2 separate regions of the Homo sapiens genome follow, and region 1 is reported to be linked to region 2. Evidence: microRNA targets listed by miRTarBase, many of them from high-throughput screens and not tested one by one. Region 2 holds a microRNA gene; the other region holds the end of a gene's coding sequence.
Evidence for each region. The annotated mature microRNA hsa-miR-7154-3p reads AGGAGGACAAGUUGUGGGAU and lies in region 2 at 3,074-3,093, shown strand. An mRNA with a match to its seed (bases 2 to 7 or 8) in the 3' UTR can be bound and repressed. Matches are read on the target gene's strand: a 7mer-m8 pairs with bases 2 to 8, a 7mer-A1 pairs with bases 2 to 7 and ends in A, and an 8mer does both.

Region 1: the mRNA of CALR is a reported target of hsa-miR-7154-3p. Seed matches in the 3' UTR shown: 7mer-A1 at 3,507-3,513.

Annotation. Positions count from the first base shown.
Region 1 is chr19:12,943,184-12,947,571 of GRCh38, reverse strand. It overlaps CALR (calreticulin), which reads right to left. Exons shown (of 9, transcript NM_004343.4): 8 at 3,943-4,035; 9 at 3,083-3,859. The coding sequence ends at 3,659. RAD23A (RAD23 nucleotide excision repair protein A) reads right to left here and starts at 1,710. Exons shown (of 9, transcript NM_005053.4): 1 at 1,552-1,710. The coding sequence starts at 1,623. RefSeq lists enhancers at 1-293, 1,609-1,828, 1,240-1,932 and silencers at 923-1,217, 1,189-1,248, 1,269-1,458, 1,469-1,548.
Region 2 is chr11:45,690,409-45,694,796 of GRCh38, reverse strand. It overlaps MIR7154 (microRNA 7154), which reads left to right and starts at 3,021; the gene lies at 3,021-3,093.

The sequences.
Region 1 (4,388 bases), not on the chromosome of region 2:
TCTCAATGAGAGAACACTAATGTGAAGAAAATGTAATTTCGGGTAGTATAAAGTATAATTAACAGAATAAAGGGGACAGTCCCCCACTCTACACTCTACCTTGGACAATAAGTGACTAATAGTTAATAGTGATATTTTTTAATTTTAAGAGGCAGGATCTCGCTGCCGCCCATGCTGGATTGATGTGGCACGATCATCGCTGACTGCAGCCTCAAACTCCTGGGCTCAACTGGTACTCTTGTCCAGCCTTGGGAGTAGCTAGGACTAAAGGTACACACCACCACTCCAGACTAATTAAAAATAATTTTTTTTTGTAGATAAGAGTCTCCCTATGTTAGACTGGCTGGTCTCAAACTCCTGGCCTCAAGCAATCCTCCTGCCTCTGCCTCCCAAATCATCAGGATTAGAGGCATGAGCCACCGTGCCTGGCCAATAGTGCTACTGTAAATGTATATGTGTCATACCTTTTAAGTTTCCTATGAAATACGTTTAATTGGTCTCATTTTATTTATTGATTTTTGTTTCTTTTTTTTGTAGAGAACGGGGTCTCACTGTGTTGCCAGGATGATCTCGAATTCCTAGGCTCAAGGGCTCCTCTTCCCTCTGCCTCCCTAAGTGCTGGGATTACAGGCGGAAGCCAGCAGGCGACCGGTTCATTTGATATTTGAGAAAACGGAGGCACAGACAGGTAGGCAGGTTAACTTGCCCAAAGCCAAACACTTGAGCGGATCAAAAAATGTGTGTTTCCTTTTCTACAAAAAGTGGACTTCAATGTCTCCCTCACTATGCAAAAAGCGCCAAGTACCCAATAGACATTCAGTATGTTTGAATTAGGTCCTAATTCTACTTTTGACTAAAAAGGCAGCATAATATTTATATCGTGGACGCTCACACGAGGCAGAACCGAATTTGAATCCCAGCTCTGCCATTACTTGTGTGTGACTGTGGCAAAGTTCCTCAATCCCTAGGTTTCCACATCTGTAAAATGATCAGAGGTCCCCAATGACAAGCCCGTTTTGCAGAGCGGTAAAACAACACTACAACACTCGGTGACTGATAAAAAGTAAACGGCCAACAAACACGGACCACCAAAATTATAAAGACTGAGACCCGTTTATTATCATTAACATCGTTGTTGTCGTCACTACTCAGTATCTCCTGGTCATTACTCCTAGATTCGACCACCAGTGTCCCAAGGAGACGCCTGCAAAGCTGGGAACGTGGAGCCCAGTCTTGGAGAGCTTGGCCTGCCCAGGAATCCGAGCTTGTGACTCCCGCGCCCCGCGAGAGCGCTGACATTGGAGCCGGGGCCTGGCCAGCGCCCCGGGGGTGGGGCCTCGCCCGGAGACCGGCGCAGGAGCGCCGCCCGATCGGCTGGGGGCTGGGCCAAAGACCATCGGGGGGTCCAGGAAAGTCGGGCAGGTCGGGGGTCTGGGCAGGGCCGACCCGCGCCGTCCTCCCTGCCCCTCCCGTTGGGATTCTAGCCTCCCCGCCCCCACCCCACCCCCGAAACCCGTCGCTCCCGCCCCCGGGCTCCGGCCCGGCCCGCACCGTCTCGTCAGGCTCCATGCGGATCTTGAAGGTCTGCTGCTGCAGCGTTTTGAGCGTGATGGTGACGGCCATGGCGGGGCCCGAGCGACGCGGCGGCCCCGGGATCCTCACACAACATGCAACTCACGCCGCCGCCATCTTAGCGCCCAGGCGCGCCGCGCCGCGCGCCGACCACTTCCGGGGCAGGCAATGCGCGCGCTGACCACCGGCGCACGTGACCTGCGCACTCCCTCCTTGGCCTTTGTGGGCATGCGCACGAGCGCGTTCTCGAGCGAGGCACGCGCAGACTAAACTCCGCGCTGTGGGCGGGGCTTCTTGCTCGGCCCGCACACGTGGTCTCCTGAGTGACGCCATGCCCGTTATCGGTGACGTCACGGGGCTGCAAAGTGACTCTGGTGTCCCCACTCTCACGCTCAAATGAATTTTTAACAAAGTTTTTATGTACCTGTACTGGTTACAGACATTTGTATTTCTTCTGTAAAAACCTCATTTTGCCTCTTCCAAATGAGAATTTTTTCTTTCAAACAGTCTCTGTCACCCAGGCTGGAGTGCAGTGGCGCGATCTCGGCTCACTGCAGCTTCCGCCTTCCGGGTTCATGCAATTCTCCTGCCTCAGCCTCCCGAGTAACTGGGATTACAGGCACCCCCCACCACGCCCGGATAATTTTTTGTATTGGGTTTCACCGTGTTGGCCAGGCTGGTCTCAAAACTCCTGACCTCAGGTGATCCACCCGCCTCGGCCTCCCAAAGTGCTGGGATTACAGGCGTGAACCACCGTACCCGGCCCCCAAATGAGTTTTATTCTGGTCTGGGTATCCTGGCAGGAACCCTTGTAGAGCAGTCAAAGTGAAAGTTACTCAAAACTAGAAATACCTGAAAGGCCACCAAGCACAGAAAAAAAACCTTAAGTTGGAAGCGGGGGCAAGGTGCCATTTTGTAGCCTCATTCATTCTTTAGGGATCTGGAGTTTTGGAATGAACCTACAATTTTCATTCTTGGGTCTCCGGGCAGGAGTACTTTGTTGTACTATACCTAATCTGACCCCAGAAGTATTTAAAGATGTTAACTTTCAAAGCCTCACTACATTAAATACAGAATTCTCCCTTGGATCTACCAGTCCTGGAGGCATCCCAGAGGGGTTGGGCTGAGCCACAGGACCCCAAAGGAATAGAAGCATGAAAAAGGCCAGTTTAAGGGGCAGGGTGAACCAGATTGAGCCACTGTACGCCAGCCTGGACAACAGAGCGAGAGTCTATCTTAAAAATAAATAAATAAGCAGAACCAAAACTTACCAGTTAGGTTCAAGGATTCAGTAAGTTAGTATGTGGAGTATTTACAGCAGCAACAGCCATTCCCCCGTTGGTTTTGAGGGTTATGGGGTAAATAAGGGTCCCTGGAATCTTGTGGAACACTCAGCAACCTCTCTAGCAATAGCTGAAAAAGGAGATATACTGGAAACCCCCCCCCCCCCCAAAAAGACCACTGCTGGGTTTCCTTAAGTCTGTCTTTCCCCAGAAGGAGACACAGGAGGGAGACACAAAATTTAATTTAATAGAAATTTTGTTTGTAGTTCTTACATTCTCAGTGTGAGCCAATCTGGGACCCACTGCCCCACCCAGAAGTGGCCCAGTCCTGGGGGCAGGGGAGAAAGGGAGGGGTGAAATGAGAAGAGCCCCGTTCTTCCTCAGTGCTGGGGGGTTGGAGACACCACCCCCTTCTGCTGCCCTCCTCTGGGCTCCAGGAAGGAGAGCAGATGAAATCTCAGGCCTGTGGCTTCTCCACACCACTGCCCCCCAGGTTGGAGGGGAGCTAAGAGATGAGAGAAGGGGACAGAGGCAAGAAAAGATGTTGATCAAGAAAGATGAGAACCAGGGGTGAGGGCTGAAGGAGAATCAAAGATAAAATACCAGTTTAAAAAAAAAAAAAAAAAAGGGCGGGGAGGGGGTGGGGGAGAGTGGAGGAGGGGAACAAAACCAAAATCCACCCCAAATCCGAACCAGCCTGGAAAAAAATGAAAGTTCTCGAGTCTCACAGAGACATTATTTGGCGCGGCCAGCTCTGCGGCAGGAGCGCTCAGGCCTCAGTCCAGCCCTGGAGGCAGGCCTCTCTACAGCTCGTCCTTGGCCTGGCCGGGGACATCTTCCTCCTCATCTTCCTCCTTGTCCTCCTCATCCTCCTCATCCTCATCTTTGTCCTCATCATCCTCCTTGTCCTCTGCCTCCTCCTCCTCTTTGCGTTTCTTGTCTTCTTCCTCCTCCTTAAGCCTCTGCTCCTCGTCCTGTTTGTCCTTCATTTGTTTCTCTGCTGCCTGCAGGCAGAGCACACACCTCAGGGCCTTGCCCCCTGCCAGCCCTGCCCGCCCCCGACATCAGGACCAGGACCAGGCCTCACCTTTGTTACGCCCCACGTCTCGTTGCCAAACTCCTCAGCGTATGCCTCATCGTTGGTGATGAGGAAGTTGTCAAAGATGGTGCCAGACTTGACCTGGAGGATGAATGGGAAGGATGGTCAGAGGTGATACCCGATAGCCCTTGCTTTGGACAGGGTTTCCACCTGTGTTCCTATAACCACTATATTCTGCTGCCTGCATCTGCAGAGAAGACAAGGAACACCGCTGACACTGCAGTTAAAAAGATGGAGAGGCCAGGTGAGGTGGATCACGCCTGTAATCCTCGCCCAGAGGCCAAGGTGGGCGGATCACGAGGTCAGGAGATCGAGACCACCCTGGCTAACACGGTGAAACCCCGTCTCTACTAAAAATACAAAAAATCAGCCAGGCGTGGTGGCAAGTGCCTGTAGTCCCAGCTATTTGGGAGGCTGAGACAGGAGAATGATGT
Region 2 (4,388 bases):
GCCCAGCACACCACTGACACTTGACTTGAGAGGTCTGTGAGGGCCCTGTGGGTCTGAAGCCCCAGGGGATGGGAGGAAAGTCTGTCTGGACAGCCAGCAGAGGTTTAGTTAGGTGGGATATAAAGTGTGTGACTGAAAACGCTTCTCACATTGGTTTTAGAAAACACCCTAGCAGGCTGGTGGGCAGTGGAAAGAGTAGGAGGAAAAGAATCCCTTTTTTTCTTTGCCTTGGGGAAGAAGAAGCTGTTTAAATTCAGTGGAAGAAGAGCTATGAGGCCTTAGGTGGAGGGAGAGGCTGACTGAAGATGAGAGTCAGTTCCAGCCCTGTTGGGTTGATGGGACGGGGAAGGAAGGCAGCAATAAGAGAACTGCTAGCTGCTGGTGATGGGCAGGAAGGTGGTGCCTTTGCTGTCATAACTTGGTTAGAGAAAGGCAAGTATCAGGGACTTGCAATGATGGTTAGCAGATGCAGAATCTCAGTCCTGTCCCCTGCCTCAATCCCCTGCCATCTATACCCTGGGCTGCTTATGGGACATTGTCTATCCCCTTCCTGCAGAAGGGCCTAGCTTTAGAGTCCACTGGAGCTCTGGGCCAGACCTGGGGAGGCTCTTGGAGTCAGCACACCCCAGAGATTCTTATTTCATAGGTGTGGGGTGGAGCTGAGGAACCTGAATCTTTAACAAGCTCACTAGGTATTTCAGCTGCCGGTCATCCATGCAGCACATTTGAGAAGCCTGATTCTGGGATCTGTGGAGTCAACAGACTTTTTTGAGGAGGGAGGCAGGCAGCTGCTTGGGAGGGCTGGCTATTTATTCCACAGGTCGTTGACGACCTAGCACTTGCTGAGTGGGCCCTGCTGAGTGAGCCCTGCTCACGCCCAGTGCAGGGCTCTATAGGTGCTTCAGAGGAGCTCTGCCCGCAAGGAGCTTACACATAAGCTGGGAGATGGCCTAGCAACGGATCCCTTGGATGTAACTCGGAGTGAAATGAGTGCTGTCAGACACAAACAGGCAAAAACTGTGGCCTTTGAGTAGAGAACAGGCTGGAGCGGATGGTGGTGCTGGCTTGGGGAAGGCCTGGCCAGCCATGCTGAGGAGTTTGGACTTTCTTTTCTAGGAGCCTCAGATAAGCAAACCTTGGGCCCATGAGGTCAAAGACTTGCCCCAAATCACAAAGCTAGTTAGCAGTAAGAGCATACTCCAAACCTGCTCAAGAGAAGTCACTCCAGGCGTGTGGCGTGATCTCAAGTGCCTGGGGACCTTGGACTTGTGTGAAGATGGATCAGGTGTGAGGGGTGATTTGGGTTTTATATTGTAAAGCATGGACAGTACTGGATGAAGGAAGACTCCTTTAAGAAATGATTGTCAATACCCATGCACTGGGGTGAACAGACAATAGCCAAAACAGGAGATGGGCGGGTTCAGGAGGCATTAGACTTCTCTGCATCTTCTTGGTACTTGGTATAGGATGACTGCCCACCAGACCTTTGCCGAATGACTTTATTCACAGACTCTGTGAGATCGTGGTCCCTCTAGTTTATTGGTGGTGAAGAGAACAGGCAACCTGGGGCGGGCGAGGCCCAGTGATTGCCTGTGCCTCTTAGGAAGAGAGCTGTTCAGGTCTGTCTCTGACCTTTCCACCAACCCCCAATTCATCCTCAGCAGCTTACTGGGAACTCTAGAAAATTCTCAAGTCGACCTAGGGGAAATCCACAGTCTTTGAATGGAATATACGTGAGGGAGGAAGGGTGAGAGGCAGTGGTGAGTAGCCTGGGTTGATGACTTCCTCCTTCCTCTGTGAAGTCTAGACAGAGGTACAGGCGCATGGCAGGGGGCGACATAGTTTTGCTTTCTGCTTCTGCCAGTCTTCCAGTCATGCCTCCATCAGTCAATCAGTACCTTATGAGGACAGCAAGGGACAAAAGGTAACAAAGTCCCTGGTTTTAGATCCCTGGAGGCAGCCAGACTCGGCAGGGACAGTTGTGGCAATCCCGGCGGGAGCCTGAGTGTGGGGTACACCCCCACAGCAACCAGAGAAATAAGCTCTTCCTCTAATCTGGGTTGGATGCCAAGAAAGAACCCTCACAGTCAGATGATTTGGGTTTGAAGTCTGGTCTTGGCTGCTAACTGGCAGTATAACCTTGGCAAGTCTCGACCTCTGTGCAGCTTAGTTTCTTCGACGGAAAACATTTGAACACATTATAGCGGTCCTAAGGGGGAAGCCTGGGCTCATTTTGTTCTTCCTGAAGAGGATAAGGCCCCACGTGTCATTCTGGAGATGGGTTTTGGGAACTTGGTTGTGAGGTGCTCTGGCTACTGGCTTGGGTAGGGGTAGAAAGGGTGAGGTGAAGTTTCCTCTAGGAATCTTAACTTCTTCTTTTTAAAAAGTTTTATTTATGATTGACATATAATAATTGTACATACTTATAGGGTACAGTGTGATGTTTCAATGCATGTATACATAGTATAATGATCAAATTGGGTAATTAGCATATCCATCACTGTAAATATTTATAATTTATTTGTGATGAGAATATTCAAAATCCTCTCTTCTAGTTATCGTGAAATATACAATGCATTATTGTTAGCTATAGTCACCATACTGTGTAATAGAACACCAGAACTTATTTTTCCTAACTGTAACTTTATACTTTGTTGATCAATCTCTCTTCGTATACCTCTCTCCCACTTCCCCTAAGGGTTACTCTGGTAACCATCATTCTACTCCCCATTTCTATGAAGTCAAGTTTTTTAGATTCCACATAGGAATGAGATCATGTGGTATTTGTCTTTCTGTGCCTTGCTTATATCACTTAGCATAATGACCTCCAGGATCATCTATGTTACCATAAATGGCAGGATTTCATCCTGTTGTATGGCCAAGTGTAAGGAATCTCACCTCCTGATCAGGGGTCTGAAGAAGAAAAAGAAAAGGAAAAATGTACTTGCAGATTTTAGTTCTGAAATACCAACCTTGAGCAAGAACCCACCAACTTCGGCCTGATACCTACCCTCTCTGCCTTCATGAACTGGGTCTAGCTTGGAGCCTTGGTAGGGAAGCAAGCTGAGGAGATAGGAGGACAAGTTGTGGGATGGGGCTGGGTCACAGGTGGAGTGTCTGCAACACCCTCATTAGGATAGAGAAGAATTTTTTCTTACCTGGAACATGGGTTAGGACAATAGAGAGAGAGAGAGAGAGAGAGAGAGAGAGAGAGAGGGATCAAAAAGAGAATTGCGAATATTTGGAGGCTGGTATCTGTGCACCCAACAAGGTGAGGAGAGGCCACATCCTCAAGGGCACGTCTTTGTCCTGAGAAATTAGGTTCTGAAGGCAGTGGAGCTCCTGAGGCTCTTTCAATTAGGTGGCAGGGTGGGGTAGGGTTGGTCAAGGTTCGCAGGGTTTAGGTGTCTCAGAGGACCCTGCAGCCATCTAGGCAAGATTTGGTTTGCCTAAAGAGGTTAGGGTTTAGAGGGTTTGAACAGCTGGCAGCTATAGGAAAGGGAGGGGGTAATGGACCTGAATGGCAAAAGTCAATCTGATTTTTAAAAATTGGGCTGTCTTCCTCTATTGAGGTGTTCATCTGCCTCTCTTAATCCAAGTCATAGAAGCACAGAGCCAGAAGAGGACCTAGAGATCATGTGGCCCAAACCCCACTCTGTTACACATTTAGGGAAAACTGAGGCCCAGTGGAGGGACCTGCCTCAGCCTCATGAGGCATAGGATGAATCTAGAGGTTAAATCTATCTGCCTGTGGCCCTGTATCTGAGGGGTACCTCCTTTCCAGTTCCTGAAAAAGAGCAAGGGTCCCATAGGTGGGAGTGAGTCCAAGTTAGGCCTGGGCATGGGAAGTGGGGAGTTTGATGCTGACCTAAGTCACTGACCTTGCAATGCTATGAAGGTGTTCCCTTGATGCTTCTGCTAAGAATGAGATCCAGACTCCATTTTAAAAGGTCACTTTTCTAGAAAGCCCCCATAGCACTTTAGCTCTGTATAAGGAATAGCAATGAAAAATATGAGTTTGAACTTGTAAAATGACCACCTAGAAATGCAAACTGAGATCTGTTAGAAACTTCCTGAAAAGCAATCTAGGAATTGAAACATGATGGCTGTCTAACTACCCCAAGCTAGAAAAGCCAAGAATTTCAAAGGGATACCTTAGCACCTGTCATGGCAGACTTAGCTTTGGAAAATAAATTCTGAAAGCTAGGTGACCAATGGCAATTGAAGGTACCTGAAATAGTGCTTGGGATGCAAAAACAAATCCAGGCTAGTGTGTGGTTTGTGATGTTAGAAATACTTGTTTTTCGGTGTTATAAAGAAATAGTACTTGAAAATACATTTAATTTTTTAGTAAGGACATTTTTATTTTTTGTAGAAATGGTATATTT